Linked DNA regions of Homo sapiens. Each later gene encodes a partner of the first gene's protein in a complex. Links are inferred from orthologs where the notes say so. Each region holds a gene or a part of one and is shown on either strand. Other genes may lie near its edges.

Region 1 (7,853 bases):
GTGTGTGTGTGTGTGTGTGTGTATATATATATATATATGTATGTATATGTATCTGTATATATATATGTATATATATGTATGTGTGTGTGTGTTTTTATATATATATATGTATATACATAACACTGCACACAGTTTCAGCTAGAAAATAGGAACAGGCCGGGCGCGGTGGCTCACGCCTGTAATCCCGGCACTTTGGGAGGCCGAGGCGGGCGGATCACGAGGTCAGGAGATACAGACCATCCTGGCTAACATGGTGAAACCCCGTCTCTACTAAAAACACACACACACAAAATTAGCCGGGCGTGGTGGCGGGCGCCCATAGTCCCATCTGCTGCGGAGGCTAAGGCAGGAGAATGGCGTGAACCCGGGAGGCGGAGCTTGCAGTGAACGGAGATCGCGCCACTGCACTCCAGTCTGGGTGACAGAGCAAGACTCCGTCTCAAAAAAAGAAAAAAAAAAGAAGAAAACAGGAACAATACTTACATCTCAAGAGATGATGCTATGAGGATGAAATGAGGTCATGTATGTAAAGCATGACACATAACAGCCACTGAAAAGACTACCCTCGTGTTTTGTTTATTTTTTTAAAATAATTTTTCACGGGCCATTTTCTAACCAGAAAACATAAGTAACTGTTGGGAACAATCTTCAAATGTTGAACATGCTTGAGAACGACCACAAGCTCCATATATGTAGAAAGTGCTCCATAAATAATTACTGAATGAAGGAATCATATGTTAAATATAAGTGGTTAGTTACGTGCTAAAATTACTGTCATTTTAGTATTTTAGTAATTCATCAAGAACCTGGCACTGTAAAGCAGGGGTAAAATAGCTGACTCTAAATGTTCAGAGAAACCCATATTTGGGTTTTTGCCACAGTTACCCAAATTTGAAAAAAAATATGTATTTGTCACAGCTGAAGTTTAAAACAAAAACCAAAAAAACCTTGGGGTTCACGCTTCAGTTGTACAGTTAACCATGGGGGCTCATGGGATACCAGATGGGATACACTTAAGTCACACGACTGACTAAATTCAGTGTTTCACTTCAAGTTTTAAGAACAGCTCACGCTTGTGGAGATAGAAAAAAAATGTTTTTGGGAAACCAGATAAAGAATCCGGAATAATTTGTCTTAATTTCTTATTGTTCATCTTAGGAAAAAGGAAAAAAGAAAAACAAAATCTGTTTTCATCATTGAACACAACAGTTGTATACAACAGTGTTGTATATACACTGTAAATTTGTTGTATACTGTGCCAATTTGCACCTGGAAACATGGGCAGTGGTTAATTTACTGTGGCCTGTAATTATAAATTAAACAATCATGGATTACACAGTACACTTAATTGATCAACAAACTGGGAAAAGTTAGCCAACTCTCATGCACTTCTCATCCATAATGATGAATCTCAATCTCTGTTGGTTCGGCATGCCCTTTTCATTCCAATTCTAGCTATTTTCTGGGTAAATATTTATGTTTGTACTCATTTGTTGAGAAAAACTTTAACTTTAAAAGGACAGCTCACGTATAAATGATTAAGAAAAAGAAACAGTTGTAAAAATCTGTTTAGCCTGAGGTTAAAAAAAAACTGCAAGTGTAGCAAGTGTGAAATGTGATTGGCAACTTCAGATCAAATAACCCTACTTCTTTAACAATCTGACAATGTAAAATCAATTGAGTTTTTTTTTTCCTTTCTAAATCTACTCACTGGATAATCTGACCAAACATACATCTATTTTTTTTTTTCCTGGGCATCTAGTTTTTTTGTTTTTTTTTTTACTTCTTAAATCAACAGAAATGGCTCAACATTTCTAAAAGTCAAGAAAGGAACTAGGAAGAGAGTTGGAGCAGTGACTATAAGTTTGATGACAGGCTCTTTGCAGCCAACTAACCTGCTTTAAGTGTTCAAAATCAATTTTTCTTTGATAGCTCTAAAATTACTCAATTCCATTTTAACTCCCTCCAACTAACTGTACAGACATTAACAAGAAACAGAGTGTCAACGGTCAGATCTGTCACAACCATAATTTAGAATTTGGGAAAGCTTTAATTGGGACTGACAGAGAAAAGCCTTGCCCCGGATTGAAGTTCGATCTCCATTTTTAACTTCTCGTTCTTTTCAGTTTGGAGAACTCAAGCTAGGATTAAGATCTTTTGGTCCTGGTATGGTCACACGCAAGAGGAGACTGCAAAAGGTTTCGAAGGAAATTCTAGAGACGGAGCAGCTAATATGTCTTCATCAACATGGATTATGTATTGAATGAAAAATCGGTCATCACCAACAATCAGATCCTGCAAAACTCTCAGCAAATAACTAAATAATTCGGGACTGAGGAAGCGCACCCGCCACGCAGACACCAAGACGGCGTAAAATCCACCAGGCATCCCTTCCAAGCGGCACCCCTTTGTGTCGTGGGACTTACTTCCCTACCCCCCAGGGGCCCGCACAGCGCGAGAAGGAGGAGAGCTAGGCTACCATCTCCCCTGCTACCGCCAGGGCGACCTCAGAGCCAATGGGGCCGGCCTTCTCTCCGCTTCTGGCCGGGCTCCAGACGAACCCCACTTTACTGCAAAGCCGCGAGACCGATTGCCCGGGAAGTCTAAGCCTGCTAGCGAAAGCTGCTCTCCGCAGTTCCTGGGATCCGCCCTCACCCCTGTCCCCAGAGTAATGATGGAGCCCGGGCTCCGCACCCGGCCAGCCGCGCACTCTGCCAGCCCCTTCCCCAAGCCTCGGACCCGCTGCAAGCCCCGCCTTCCTCTCCAGGCCCAGGCCTCCCTCCAGGGCCCACCCTCGGGTCTCCCCGCCGACCCCCGAAATCAGTCCACAACCCAGATAGCAGGCTGAGCGACGTCCCATTCCCTCCTTGGCTTTAAGCGCAGTGCTCCGCCCTGGGCCTGGGGACGGGAGGGGGATAACCGGCCGGCTCCAAGGGGGCCCAGGCCCCCACACTCACCATCCTCCCGCCGAGTCCCTCCTCCTCCTCCTCCTCCTGCTGCCTCCCCCGTTACCAGGGGCAACTGCTGCGGCGCCGCCCCCGACGTCCCTCGCACGCACAGCTGAGGAGCTGAGCAGCAATACGGGGCGGGGTGCAGCTCCGCTTTCCCCAGAGTGCGCAAGTGCGCTAAGGCGCCCGCCCACGCAGTGGGCGGGCTACGGGAGCTGCAGAGGCCGCCGCCGGCTCGCCTGGACCAGGGAGTGGAGAAAGCCTGCCCACGTGGCTGGCGGGAGCCTCCCGGCCTGGGATTGGTCGAAAAGGAGGGGCGTGGGGCGGGCGTGGGGGCAGTTCCCCAGCCCAGGTCCTCCTCTCACCCGGGCCAGTTTTCAAGGCGGGCTGTAACTGGTGGCATTTGTCCCGGGACCAGGTAAGGGGCCTTGGGACAATGGCGCTCGCCCTGTCTACCTCCAATCCCCACATCTCGGGTGGGTGCTGAGATTGCTGTCCTGACTGCCCAGGCGGGGCTGCAGCGCGGGCTGGACTTCCACCTGCAGAAGCCACGTGGCGCGAAGTGCGCCCTGGGGCTGCAGATGGGCCCCTCTGCTCTGACCCCCATTGCCTAGGAGTGCCAGGCCGAGCGGCTGGGGCGTTACGAGCTGTCCGGGATGGGGGAGTACCGATGGGGGGAGGCCGTCTGTCGGAGGGCAAGAAGCAGCCTGGGGGCTGGCCCTGAGCCCTGAGGTGAGCTGAAAGCACAGGTGAAAGGCGTTTTGGGGATCGGCCCGGTTTTTGTTTTGACACAGGGTGTCGCTCTGTCGCCCGGGCCGGAGTGCGGTGGCGCGATCTCGGCTCACTGCAGCCTTTGCCTCACAGGCTTAAGCGATTCTCCCGCCTCAGACTCTCGAGTAGCTGGGATTGCAGGCGGGCGCCACCACGCCTGGATAATTTTTTGTATTTTGTTTTTGTAGAGACGGAGTTTCGCCATGTTGCCCAGGCTGGGCTCGAACTCCTGGGGTCAAGCCATCCGCCCGCCTAGGCCTCCCAAAGTGCTGAGACTACAGGTGTTCCAAAGTGGTGAGCCACTGTGCCCAGCCTCTGGCCGGTTTTGCTAAGCTGCTTTGGACAGGACCGCGTACCATCTGTAGTCCTGGAGGAGGCAAAAATGAGCCTGCATTTTTAGCCAAGGAAGAGCAAGTGGGACACTGGGGTGGGTTGGGAAGTGCTACCTCCCATCCCTTTCCCGATGCAGAGGACTATAAGAAGAGTTTACACAAACGTGCTAGGCCCTGTTCTAGACGCTGGAGACACAGCAGTGGACAAAATCAGCCCGTATGGAAATTACATCCTTCCTAATGAAATACATTTCATACCAAATTTCATTTTCACAACCCCTAGAAATTGGTAATTGCGGCCAGGCGCAGTGGCTCATGCCTATAATCCCAGCACTTTGAGAGGTGGAAGGGGAGGAAGGCTTGAGCCCAGGAGTTGGAGACCAGCCCGGGCAACACAGTAGGACCCTGCCTCTACAAAAAAAAATTTTTTTTAATTAGCCAGGTTCCGTGGCGCACTTGTAGTCCTAGCTACTCGGGAGGTTGAGGCTGGAGGATTGCTTGAGCCCAGGAGCTATTATCACATCACTGTACTCCAGCCTGGGTGAAAGAGCAAGACCCTGCCTCAAAAAAAAAAAAAAAAATGAAAACAAAAATCAACATCTGCTGCTTGCATACCTGCTTCAGATCCTTGGAGAGAAAAAGCAGTTCAGAGCCTTGACTAAGGAGGTGATGAATGGAGGTGATACAGGAGCACAAACCCCTATAATCTACTCATCTCCAGACTGTTGGCCCTTTTGTGAAAAAGGCAAGGGAGGTTGCTCTTTCTAAGTTGTCTGGTGCCTAACAGCCCACTTGCCTTGGAGTCAGACGAGTACCCATAAGCCTATACCTGGGCCTGCTCTTGTAATTATTACCCTCATTTTCCAGCTTGCTCTAGGCAGCCTTGACCTTAATCCTTGCCTGTCTCAGTGGTCTTTGTGTCTGACCTTCTGGGGTCTTTGGCTACCTTGATCTTCCTCTGATGTGAGTACCAGCGATGATGTTTCGTTTTTCTCCCTACCTGGGGCTACAAACAGTAATCTTGTGCACTTCTGCTTGTAAGAGGATACCTCAGAAGGAATTTGGAAGCTTGTTTTCTGATCTCTGATACCATTTGCCAGAGAAAATCTGCTCTTTCTGGGAAGGATGAGCATTACGTCAGAGGTGGCAGTAGTCTATTACTTTTTTTTTCTCTTTGTTTCCCTCTCTTTCTTTCCTTTTTTTTTTTTTTTTTTTTTTTGAGATGGAGTTTCACTCTTATTGCCCAGGCTGGAGTGCAACGGTGCGATCTCGGCTCATCACAACCTCCACCTCTCGGGTTCAAACGATTCTCCTGCCTTAGCCTCCCAAGTAGCTGGGATTACAGGTATGCACCACCACGCCTGGCTAATTTTTTATTTTTAGTAGAGACGGGGGTTTCTCCATGTTGGTCAGGCTGGTCTTGAACTCTCAACCTCAGGTGATCTCTCTGCTTTGGGCTCTCAAAGTGTTGGGATTACAGGTGTGAGCCACCGTGCCAGGCCTCGGAGTTGGCAAGTAGGCTATAGTGGATAGAGGACCTTGGGGAAGTAAGGCCTTAGCTGTTGTCCAATCTTTGAGGACTGGATCTGTTGATTGTTCGTGTTTATATCTGCTGCAAGCGCTTAGTGCAGGGCCAAGTGTATCAAAAATGCCCACTGTGGTGGCCCAATCCATGTGCACCTTTCTAGGCTTCAGTTTCCTCTTCTGTAAACTGAGATCTTAGATCACATGTCTTCAGGCTATGACATTCTCTCTCTCTTTTTTTTTTTTTTTTTTTTTTGTGGAGACGGAGTCTCGCTCTGTCACCCAGACTGGAGTGCAGTGGTGCGATCTTGGCTCACTACAACCTCCGCCTCCCGGGTTCAAGCGATCCTCCTTCCTCAGCTTCCTGAGTAGCTAGGATTACAGGTGCGTGCCACCACGCCTGGCTAATTTTTTGTATTTTTAGTAGAGACAGAGTTTCACAGGGTTAGCCAGGATGGTCTCGATCTGACCTCGTGATCCGTCCGCCTCGGCCTCCTAAATTGCTGGGATTACAGGCGTGAGCCACTGCGCCCGGCCTCAAGCTGTGACATTCTCTAATCCTAGGAGGGAGATATCATTAAATCACTGGTCTGATTTTTACTCCTACTTTGTTCCTAGTAGTGGGACCATACAGAAGTGGGGCTACCCTGGACATGATGATGACCTTTTTAGGGAAGACTAGATGTGGCTTGTGTGGGAGGAGGGACAGTAACTGTAGAAGAAAATTTAGAGACCAGTATGACTTAGTACAGGCAAGGTAGACAGTTTTGCAACTTCATGAAAGAAAGCGTGCTCTTAATTCTGTAACCTAGGCAGGTTCTAAGTTTGACTTAAAAGAGGTGACATCCTTGATGCCAAGAGACCCAAGAAGAAGTTGGAATGCATTTCAGGTAAGCAGTAAATATTCTTCGAGGGCATGTGAAACATGTAGCAGTAAACATCACAGACATGATCCCGATGCTTGTGAGCCTTACAGTCTGTCAGGGGAGGCAGACTTTACACAAATCACAGTCAATGACAAGAAGGTGACAATCACAAACGCCCAGCATGCTGCAAAGGACAGGATGCTGTAGGAGTATATATCACAGAAGGATTTGAGTTTGTCCTGAAGGAGTCGGGGAAGAGTGCCCATTGGGGGACAGTGGGTGTGTGGGGGGAAATGTTCCAGACAGATCGTTTAGTGTTTTTTTTGTTTTGTTTTTGTTTTGGCTTTATGTTTTATTTAAGACAGGGACTCTGCAGTTTCTATCCTGACTTCAATTAAGAAGGCAAAGGCTCTTGCATAATTAGCAAATGTTTAGATTACCCCTTGATGATAGTCCCTCCATTCTGAGAAGCAGAGGACTTTGCAATGTTGTGTTAAGGTGAACAGAGATGTCAGAGAAGGTCTGGCTCTGTGTGTATGTGTGTGCTGAGGGGGAGGCATAGCATTTTGCTCAGTCAGGCTGTCTCCAGCATGTATGAGCCTGGGGCTCTGTAAGCCAAGGCAGCGTGTGTTCAGCCAGCCAAGCTGACTCCTTTTAGGTTCATGTAGAGCATGGGAAAGTGAACTCTTTCCCCTCCTCCCACTCTTGCTTCAGCTGGGACTGAGATAAATGCCTTTGGTCTTTGAAGCAGCCTGCAGGAGGCCAGGTGGCAGGGAGAGGGGAAGTCTGTTTTGGCAGTGGACTCTTTCTGTCTGCCTTCTGACTTCTCTGGAGATTGCCGCTTCAGAGAAGCATCGGGGCCAGGCCAGGGCGCTGTGGATACTCCATATTGAGCCTCTCCTCTTGTTCCTGGTCTTTCCTCTTAGGAAATGGCGTACCTCCAGCATATCAGCTTCCTGATGTCTCTTCCGCCTTAACGAAAAATCTAAAAATTGACCACTGCTCTTCCTTCCCCAACACTGTCCCTTCTGCCTCCTTTCTTGAACTTGAACTCCTGGCCTCCCAAAGTGCTGGGATTACAGGCCTGTGCCTGTCTCCACCTCCTTTCTCTCTTCTTTCTGGTGGTTCTTCCCATCTTTGGGGGCTTCCTTTTCTCGGCTTCTTTTTTTTTTTTTTTTTTTTTTTTGAGACAGGGTCTTGCTATGTTGCCAAGATGGAGTGCAGTGGCGCCATCTCGGCTCGCTGCAACCTTCACCTCCCGGGTTCAAGTGATTCTCCTGCCTCAGCCTCCCAAGTAGCTGGGATTACAGGCGCCTGCCACCACGCCCGGCTAATTTTTTGTATTTTTAGTAGAGACAGGGTTTCACCATGTTAGCCAGGCTGGTCTCAAACTCCTGACCTCGTGATCCGCC
Region 2 (7,240 bases), on another chromosome or scaffold:
TATTTGGAGATAAGGTTTTTAAAGAGGTAATTAAGTTAAAATGAGGTTATTAGGGGGCCTTAATCCAATATGACTGATATGCTTATAAGAAACGGAGATTAGTACATAGGCTGTATAGGGGTAAGACCAGGTATAGACACAGGGAGAAGACAGCCATCTGCAAGCCAAGACGAGAAGCCTCAAAGGAAACCAACCCTGCCAATAACTTGATCAGAGACATAGACTTCAGAACTTTCAGAAAATAAATGTCTGCCGCTCAAGCCACCCAGTCTGTGGTAATTTGTTATAGCAGTCCTAGCAAACTAATACACCATTTAAAAGAGGGAGAAAATCTTAATATCATCTTTATTTAGCTCACAAGTTTGCTGTAAGTCAAATAGATGTAATCTCTTTGTAAACTGTAAAGTACTATATAAATGTGAATAATTGTTATTCACAAGGTCCTTGAAAATGCAGTCATGTTGTTACGATTTGAATTTTATATTCCTTTAGTAGGGCAGACACTCAGTATCAGTACAGGGGATGGGGAGAAGCAAGAGATTTCCTAGGGCTGCAGCAAAAAACACAAATGATTTGTCATTGAAAGAAGAGGCAAAATAAAATGAATAGTTCCTTGCATTCATGCTGCAAATTTTTAAGCAAACCGATACCTAAACTACATACAATAACAATATCTAATATGTATTAAGCATTTACTAAGTACCTAGCATAATCCCAAGTACTTTTAATATGTGTTCTCAGCCAGGCGCGGTGGCTCACGCCTGTAATCCTAGCCTTTATCAACCCCATGGTAAAAGTGCTTGGTGTGTGTATGTGTGTCATGTACTGTGTATATATATTTATTTATGTGTGTGCATCTATTTTAGTTTTGTTACATGTATCTTTTTTTTTTTTTTTTGGAGACAGGGTCTCACTCTGTTGCCCAGGGTGGAGTACAGAGGTGCAATATCGGCTCACTGCAACCTCTGTCTCCAGGTTCAAGCGATTTTCCTGCCTCAGCCTCCCAATTAGCTGAGTACAGGCGCCCATCACCACGCCAAGCTAATTTTTAGTAGAGACGAGGTTTTGCCATGTTGGGCAGGCTAGTCTCAAACTCCTGACCTCAAGTGATCCACTCACCTTGGCCTCTCAAAGTGCTGGGATTACAGGCATGAGCCACCGCACCCGGCCTGTTATACATATCTTTAACATTAAAATTTGTTCCTATGTGGTAAGAACAGTAAAAGGAGTAATAAAATTGCCAAAATAAGTTGTGATTTTCCAAGAGATGACTGTGCTTTGCATTACTGTGAAACACTGAAAACACTGCTAAATGACCTATGCGTAACACACACCCATGCTATCTTCTTACTCTTGCCCCAGTACATCCATATGCATTGCTCTAACAGTGTGCAAGCTGTTCTTCTGAGTTTATTTTATGATAAGCGTATTGAATACATTATCTCAAATCTGTGTAAGCATCCTGCTTATAAGAATCTCAAGCAATGAATAAAAAGAAAAGCCTTATGTTTTAAGGAGAAAATGAAATAATAAAATATTTTGAAACAAATGAGAGAACTTGCAGGCCTGAAGGAATCCACATTGCCCATTTAGATTTAGAGATTTAGAAACAAGGCTAAGAAAATAAAAGAAAGGAAAACTCTTACATCATAGTTATCTGCTTCCAGTGGAATTGAGAAGCATTTGGAAGAGACTGAAGACAAAGAAAGACTCTAATGCTGAACAATGAGTGTGGATGAGGCCGGGCGTGGTGGCTCATGCCTGTAATCCCAGCGCTTTGGGAGGCCGAGGTAGGCAGATCACTTGAGGTCAGGAGTTTGAGACCAGCCTAGCCCGGCCAACATAGTGAAACCCTGCCCGTACTAAAAATACAAAAATTAGCCAGGCTTGGTGGCGGGTGCCTGTAATCCCAGCTCCTTGGAAGGCTGAGGCAGGAGAATCGCTTGAACCCGGGAGGTGGAGGTTGCAGTGAGCGAAGATGTCACCACTGCACTCCAGCGTGGGTGACAGAGCGAGACTCTGTCTCGAGAAAAAAAAAGGGCTGTGGGGGGGGCTATCATTTTAACCTAGTAGATTGGCAAAGACTATTTTTTAAAAATATTTAAAATAGGGAGCCCGAGGCGGGCAGATCACGAGCTCAGGAGATCGAGACCATCCTGGCTACTAACATGGTGAAACCCCGTCTGTACCGAAAATACAAAAAATTACCCGGGCGTGGTGGCGGGCGCCTGTGGTCCCGCCTACTCGGGAGGCTGAGGCAGGAGAATGGTGCGAACCCGGGAGGCGGAGCTTGCAGTGACCCGAGATTGCGCCACTGCACTCCAGCCTGGGCGACAGAGCGAGACTCCGTCTCAAAAAAAAAAATAATAATAATAATTAAAATAATTAGTTCAGTAATTTTCCCATGAGAATTTGTTCGAGGGAAATAATGAGACTAGGGTTCAAAAACATATGTGCAAGTATATTCATTACACAATTGTTTACGGGTTTAAAAAATTCAAGTAATTTAATGTAGCAGTTGAGGTTTGGTCAAATTAACCAAGATATATATTCTTTCATTTAGCAATTCTGCTGGAATCTATCCCTTGGAATAGTAAATAAAACCAACAGTTCTCAGGATGCAACATTTATAACAGCAGTTTGTGGAAGCAAAAAATGGCAAATCCACAGCACGGAGGAGGAAAAAGAAAAAAATTGCACATGGCCAGGCACGGTGCCTCACGCCTGTAATCCTAACTCTTTGGGAGGCCGAGGCAGGCGGAACACCTGAGGTCAGGAGTTCGAGGCCAGCCTGGCCAACATGGCGAAACCCTGTCCCTACTAAAACTACAAAAATTAGCTGGGTGTGGTGGCACATGCCTGTAATCCCAGCTACTCTGGAGGCTGAGGCACAGGAGAATCTCTTGAACCCAGAAGGCTAAGGTTGCAGTGAGCTGAGGTCACGCCACTGCACTCCAGCCTGGGCGACAGAGCGAGACTCTGTCTAAAAAAAAAAAAAAAAAAAAGGCACATAATGATCATCTTCATGCATTCAGGTAAGATACTGTGTGCACATTCACAAAATAAAAATAGACTAAAGGATGGTTTATGGAATACTATGCAGTTGCAAAGAAAGCACAAATTTATATTTTTAAAAGATAAAGATATAAGAAAAAAATTCATAACTGTACATATAATCCTATTTATGTAAAAAATATATATATATATATGGTTGTCTGAAGATATTTTGGGACTCCAAACACCTTCACAATGACCACTGAAGACCCCATTCCACAATGGACTCCACCTAAATGCTGAGTTGGAGTTATAATAAGATTTGGTTACCAAGGCATTTATTTAAGTGAGTATTAACTTTGCTCTTGCCCTTGAAAAGCTCCTAATTCTAGTTATCTTTATCCAAGCGTAAGAGATTAAAGACCCGCCTGAAGATACAGATGCAAACTGACCGTAAGACAATCAGCGAGTCTCACACAGCTCGGCTTTGTATTTTCAGACAACCCTTTAATTACAAACGCCTCTGGGCCAATGGTCTGAAAATGGTTGGGACTGAGGTGCTGGGGATACAATGATGAACTGCAGCCGCTGAAGCCCTGTCAGGTGGAGACCCGGTTACCTCAGACCCTCACTGAGCCTTTTCTTTTTTCTTTTCTTTCTTCCTGTTTTTCTTTTGAGACGCAGTCTCCCAGGCTGCAGTGCAGTGGCTCACTGCAACCTCGGCTTCCCGGGTTCAAGCGATTCTCCTGCCTCAGCCTCCCGAGTACCTGGGATTACAGGCGGCGCCACCACGCCAGGCTAATTTTTGTATTTTTGGTAGAGACGAGGTTTCACCATGTTGGCCAAGCTGGTCTCGACCTCCTGACCTCAGGTGATCCGCAAGCCTCGGCCTCCCAAAGTGCTGGAATTACAGGCGTGAGCCACCGCGCCCGTCTACTGCGCGTTTTCTAAACCTTGGCTCCTACGCATTTATCAGAAGAGAGAGCGCAATCTGTCTATGACTTCCAGCCAATAGCTACACTTCTTTTCTCAGCCCTCGTCCACTGTTCTTTTTTAACCAATCAGAAACGTTTTTCAAACGTTTGCCCTCCCCGCTAAGTGCGCAGGCTCCTGGAAAGTTGTCTTCACTTCCGGGCCGCGGTCTAGGGCGGCTACGTGTGTTGCCATAGCGACCATTTTGCATTAACTGGTTGGTAGCTTCTATCCTGGGGGCTGAGCGACTGCGGGCCAGCTCTTCCCCTACTCCCTCTCGGCTCCTTGTGGCCCAAAGGCCTAACCGGGGTCCGGCGGTCTGGCCTAGGGATCTTCCCCGTTGCCCCTTTGGGGCGGGATGGCTGCGGAAGAAGAAGACGAGGTGGAGTGGGTAGTGGAGAGCATCGCGGGGTTCCTGCGAGGCCCAGACTGGTCCATCCCCATCTTGGACTTTGTGGAACAGAAATGTGAAGGTAAAAACCAGAGCCCGAACCGACAATCCTTTTCTCCTCTCTCACACCAGCGGCGGGCAGGGGGTTGGTAACCACAAGCCATCTCTCGTCTCCCCGACCCCCTGTCTCCACCCCTGTCGCAAGGTCTCGTTCCCCTCACCACCTTCTCCACCCGCGTCATCAGGTTTAGAGCTGGTTGTGTGGGAGGAATTCCTTTCACCCTGCCAATGTGTTCCTTCGCAGACCTGAAAACGGGGACCGAGACTCCCCTTCTCTGGGGCCGAAGCGCACGTCCGAAGAACATTAGACTTGAATCGTAAATTCGGTCTCTCACCCTGTCCCGAACGTTTCTGCCCTCGGCAGGTGGACTGTTTGGCTGGGCTTCTTCAACAGCTTTGCCAGACTTGAGAGGAGAAGCGTCGGTTTACCTGAGTTCCTTATGATCCCTAGCATTTCGCCCGGTGTAGTCAGCTTAGGAAATGAGAAATGATTTCACTCCAAACCAACAGTTAACTGCAAAGGAGGGCATGTGATAACTCCAGGAAGCCCAGAGCCGGTGATTTTGGTGGCCTGTGTTCCCCTTGGTGAGCTCTCTACTCTTCGCTATACCAAAAATTGGCGAGGTGGGGCAGGACCATTCTTGGAACAAATGAGGCGTATAGATATGGCATAATATTCCCCGTGAAGGACAGGCATCTCCGGGTTCTGAGCAGTTCTTCAGGCTTGGAGTTCTGCATTCAGTTCGTGGAGACTATTTGCAGCCCATTCGCAGAAAAGGAACCAGAAACCACGTCATATAAATGAGTGCCCAAGCGTTATTGTGGTTGTTTAATCGGGCAAGACTTTGAGGGTAGTAGTATTCATCAATTATTTGAACATCTGCTTTGTGTTGTAAGGTTGAGTAGAATAGAGCTAGGGTCAGTTGGTACAAGCTACAGGGAAACAAATTTCAGTGAAGGAAGTGTTTCATGATAGAATGTATCCAAGATGAGTTAGCCAGCCTCAGAAGGTAATGAGCTTCCCGGCTCCAGCAGTGTTTGAATGGATCTGATAGCGACTTAATAGGGTTAGAGGGATTCAGCTATTCAGCTATCAAATGGTCGGTTATCCTGGATGACCTTTTAAGACTTCTTTAAATTCCAAGATATCATGAATCTGGTAAAGATGAAATTCAGTTTGACCACTGAATCTTTTCATTACATTTTCATTGCTATAATCAATATTCAAATCGTAGTTATTAAAGTGTTATTTTTACAGGTAATTTTTTAACAATGTTCAAAAACAAAATAACTTGTATTTGTACTCCTTTTTTTTTTTTTTTTTTGGGAGACAGAGTGTCGCTCTGTTGCCCAGGCTGGAGTGCAGTGGCGTGATCTTGGCTCACTGCATTGTTTTATACATATGATCATTCAGTAAACACTTGTTTTGATTTTATTTAACTTCATTATTTATCTGTGGTAACAAAAATTGCCTGGTCACTTTCAGTAACATTTACATCAGCAAAATTCCAGTACAATAAAATAATATGGAACCTATTGTAAAAGGATTTAACCATTAACAATAATATTACATTAAAAGTTATGAAGAAATTATTGCCTCATATTGATTGAAATGTGTTTTTGTCTTAAATATGAGGTAGTATTCATTTTAAATATTTTCTCAAGTAGGCAAAAAAGCTTGTTTACAATTAATAGTATATATGTGTGTGTGTGTGTGTGTGTGTGTGTATATTTTTTTTTCTTTTTTTTTTTTGAGATGGAGTCTCACTCTGCCGCCCAGGCTGGAGTGCAGTGGTGCAATCTTGGCTCACTGCAACCTCCGCCTCCTGGGTTCAAGCAATTCTCTTGCCTCAGCCTCCCGAGTAGCTGGGTCTACAGGCGCGCACAACCACGCCTGGCTGATTTTTGTATTTTTAGTAGAGATGGGATTTCACCACATCAGCCAGGCTGGTCTCGAACTCCTGATCGTAGGTGATCCACCCACCTTGGCCTCCGAAAGTGCTGGGATTACAGGCATGAGCCACAGTGCTCGGCCAATAGTATATATTTTTAGATATATTCATTTATATATTTTTAAAAGATAAACCCTAAGAATTCAAAGCTGAAGAGCTAGGTTGACAGTTCTATTTGGAAGGAGTGGATTTTTAAATTTGCATTAATAAAATGATTTGGTTTTTACACTATGTAATATTTTCTTTTAAATTTAGTTTTTGATGATGAAGAAGAAAGCAAATTGACCTATACAGAGATTCATCAGGAATACAAAGAACTAGTGAGTATTTTTTTTCACTGATTTTTAAAAGTAATTAGGCTAATACTACTTATAGCTTTTCTAAATGAAGAAAAATATTTTTACATTAAAAATCCTTAATTTTACAAAAATCCAATCTACCTTAACAATAGTGCCAGTTATATCTGTCTCCACAGGTGCTCTGAATATCTCATTTGGATGACTTATCTCCTCTACTCTAAGGAATGGTTTTACAACTCTTTATGGGTTCTTGCATGTATTCTTTATATCTTATTCTTATTTTGTTGACGCATCCAGGGACATATTAATTATTCACTTCGTCATGGTTGTCATGTGATTTTTTTATTTTTTATTTTTGAGACAGGGTCTTGCTCTGTCACCCAGGCTGGAGTGCAGTGGCACTATCACAGCCTATTGCAGCCTCAACCTCCCCAGGCTCAAGCGATCCTCCCATCTCAGCCACCTGAGTAGCTGGGACTACAGGTGTGCACCACCATGCCCTGCTAATTTTTTTGTATTTTGTAGAGATGGCGTTTCTCTGTGTTTCCCAGGCTGGTGTGGAACTCCAGAGC

Evidence for each region. Proteins that work in one complex are often made in the same cells at the same time.
Region 2: the proteins of ARL3 (region 1) and CFAP36 are in contact, whole or in part, in a crystal structure (PDB 4ZI3), measured with the Mus musculus proteins. The link is inferred for Homo sapiens from one-to-one orthologs. Residues at the interface, in NP_062692.1 of Mus musculus: Leu3, Leu4, Ile6, Leu7, Arg8, Lys9, Leu10, Lys11, Ser12, Arg19, Lys35, Glu40, Pro47, Thr48, Gln49, Gly50, Phe51, Asn52, Ile53, Lys54, Trp66, Ile74, Tyr77, Ser80, Tyr81; in NP_080016.1 of Mus musculus: Glu44, Glu45, Ser46, Lys47, Leu48, Thr51, Glu52, Lys58, Val61, Glu62, Leu65, Glu76, Phe79, Gln80, Cys83, Thr84, Ala88, Lys89, Leu97, Val100, Leu101, Ala103, Glu104, Asp105, Phe106, Thr107, Ile108.

Annotation. Positions count from the first base shown.
Region 1 is NC_000010.11:102,711,316-102,719,168, forward strand, and holds the start of ARL3 (ADP-ribosylation factor-like protein 3), read right to left. Parts: upstream 3,083-7,853; 5' UTR 2,961-3,082; coding exon 2,958-2,960; intron 2,847-2,957; exon of another isoform or gene 2,483-2,846; coding exon of another isoform or gene 2,480-2,482; intron 1-2,479. UniProt on the Homo sapiens protein: Small GTP-binding protein which cycles between an inactive GDP-bound and an active GTP-bound form, and the rate of cycling is regulated by guanine nucleotide exchange factors (GEF) and GTPase-activating proteins (GAP).
Region 2 is NC_000002.12:55,515,478-55,522,717, forward strand, and holds the start of CFAP36 (cilia- and flagella-associated protein 36), read left to right. Parts: upstream 1-4,240; 5' UTR 4,241-4,324; coding exon 4,325-4,439; intron 4,440-4,927; coding exon of another isoform or gene 4,928-5,002; intron 5,003-6,624; coding exon 6,625-6,689; intron 6,690-7,240. UniProt on the Homo sapiens protein: May act as an effector for ARL3.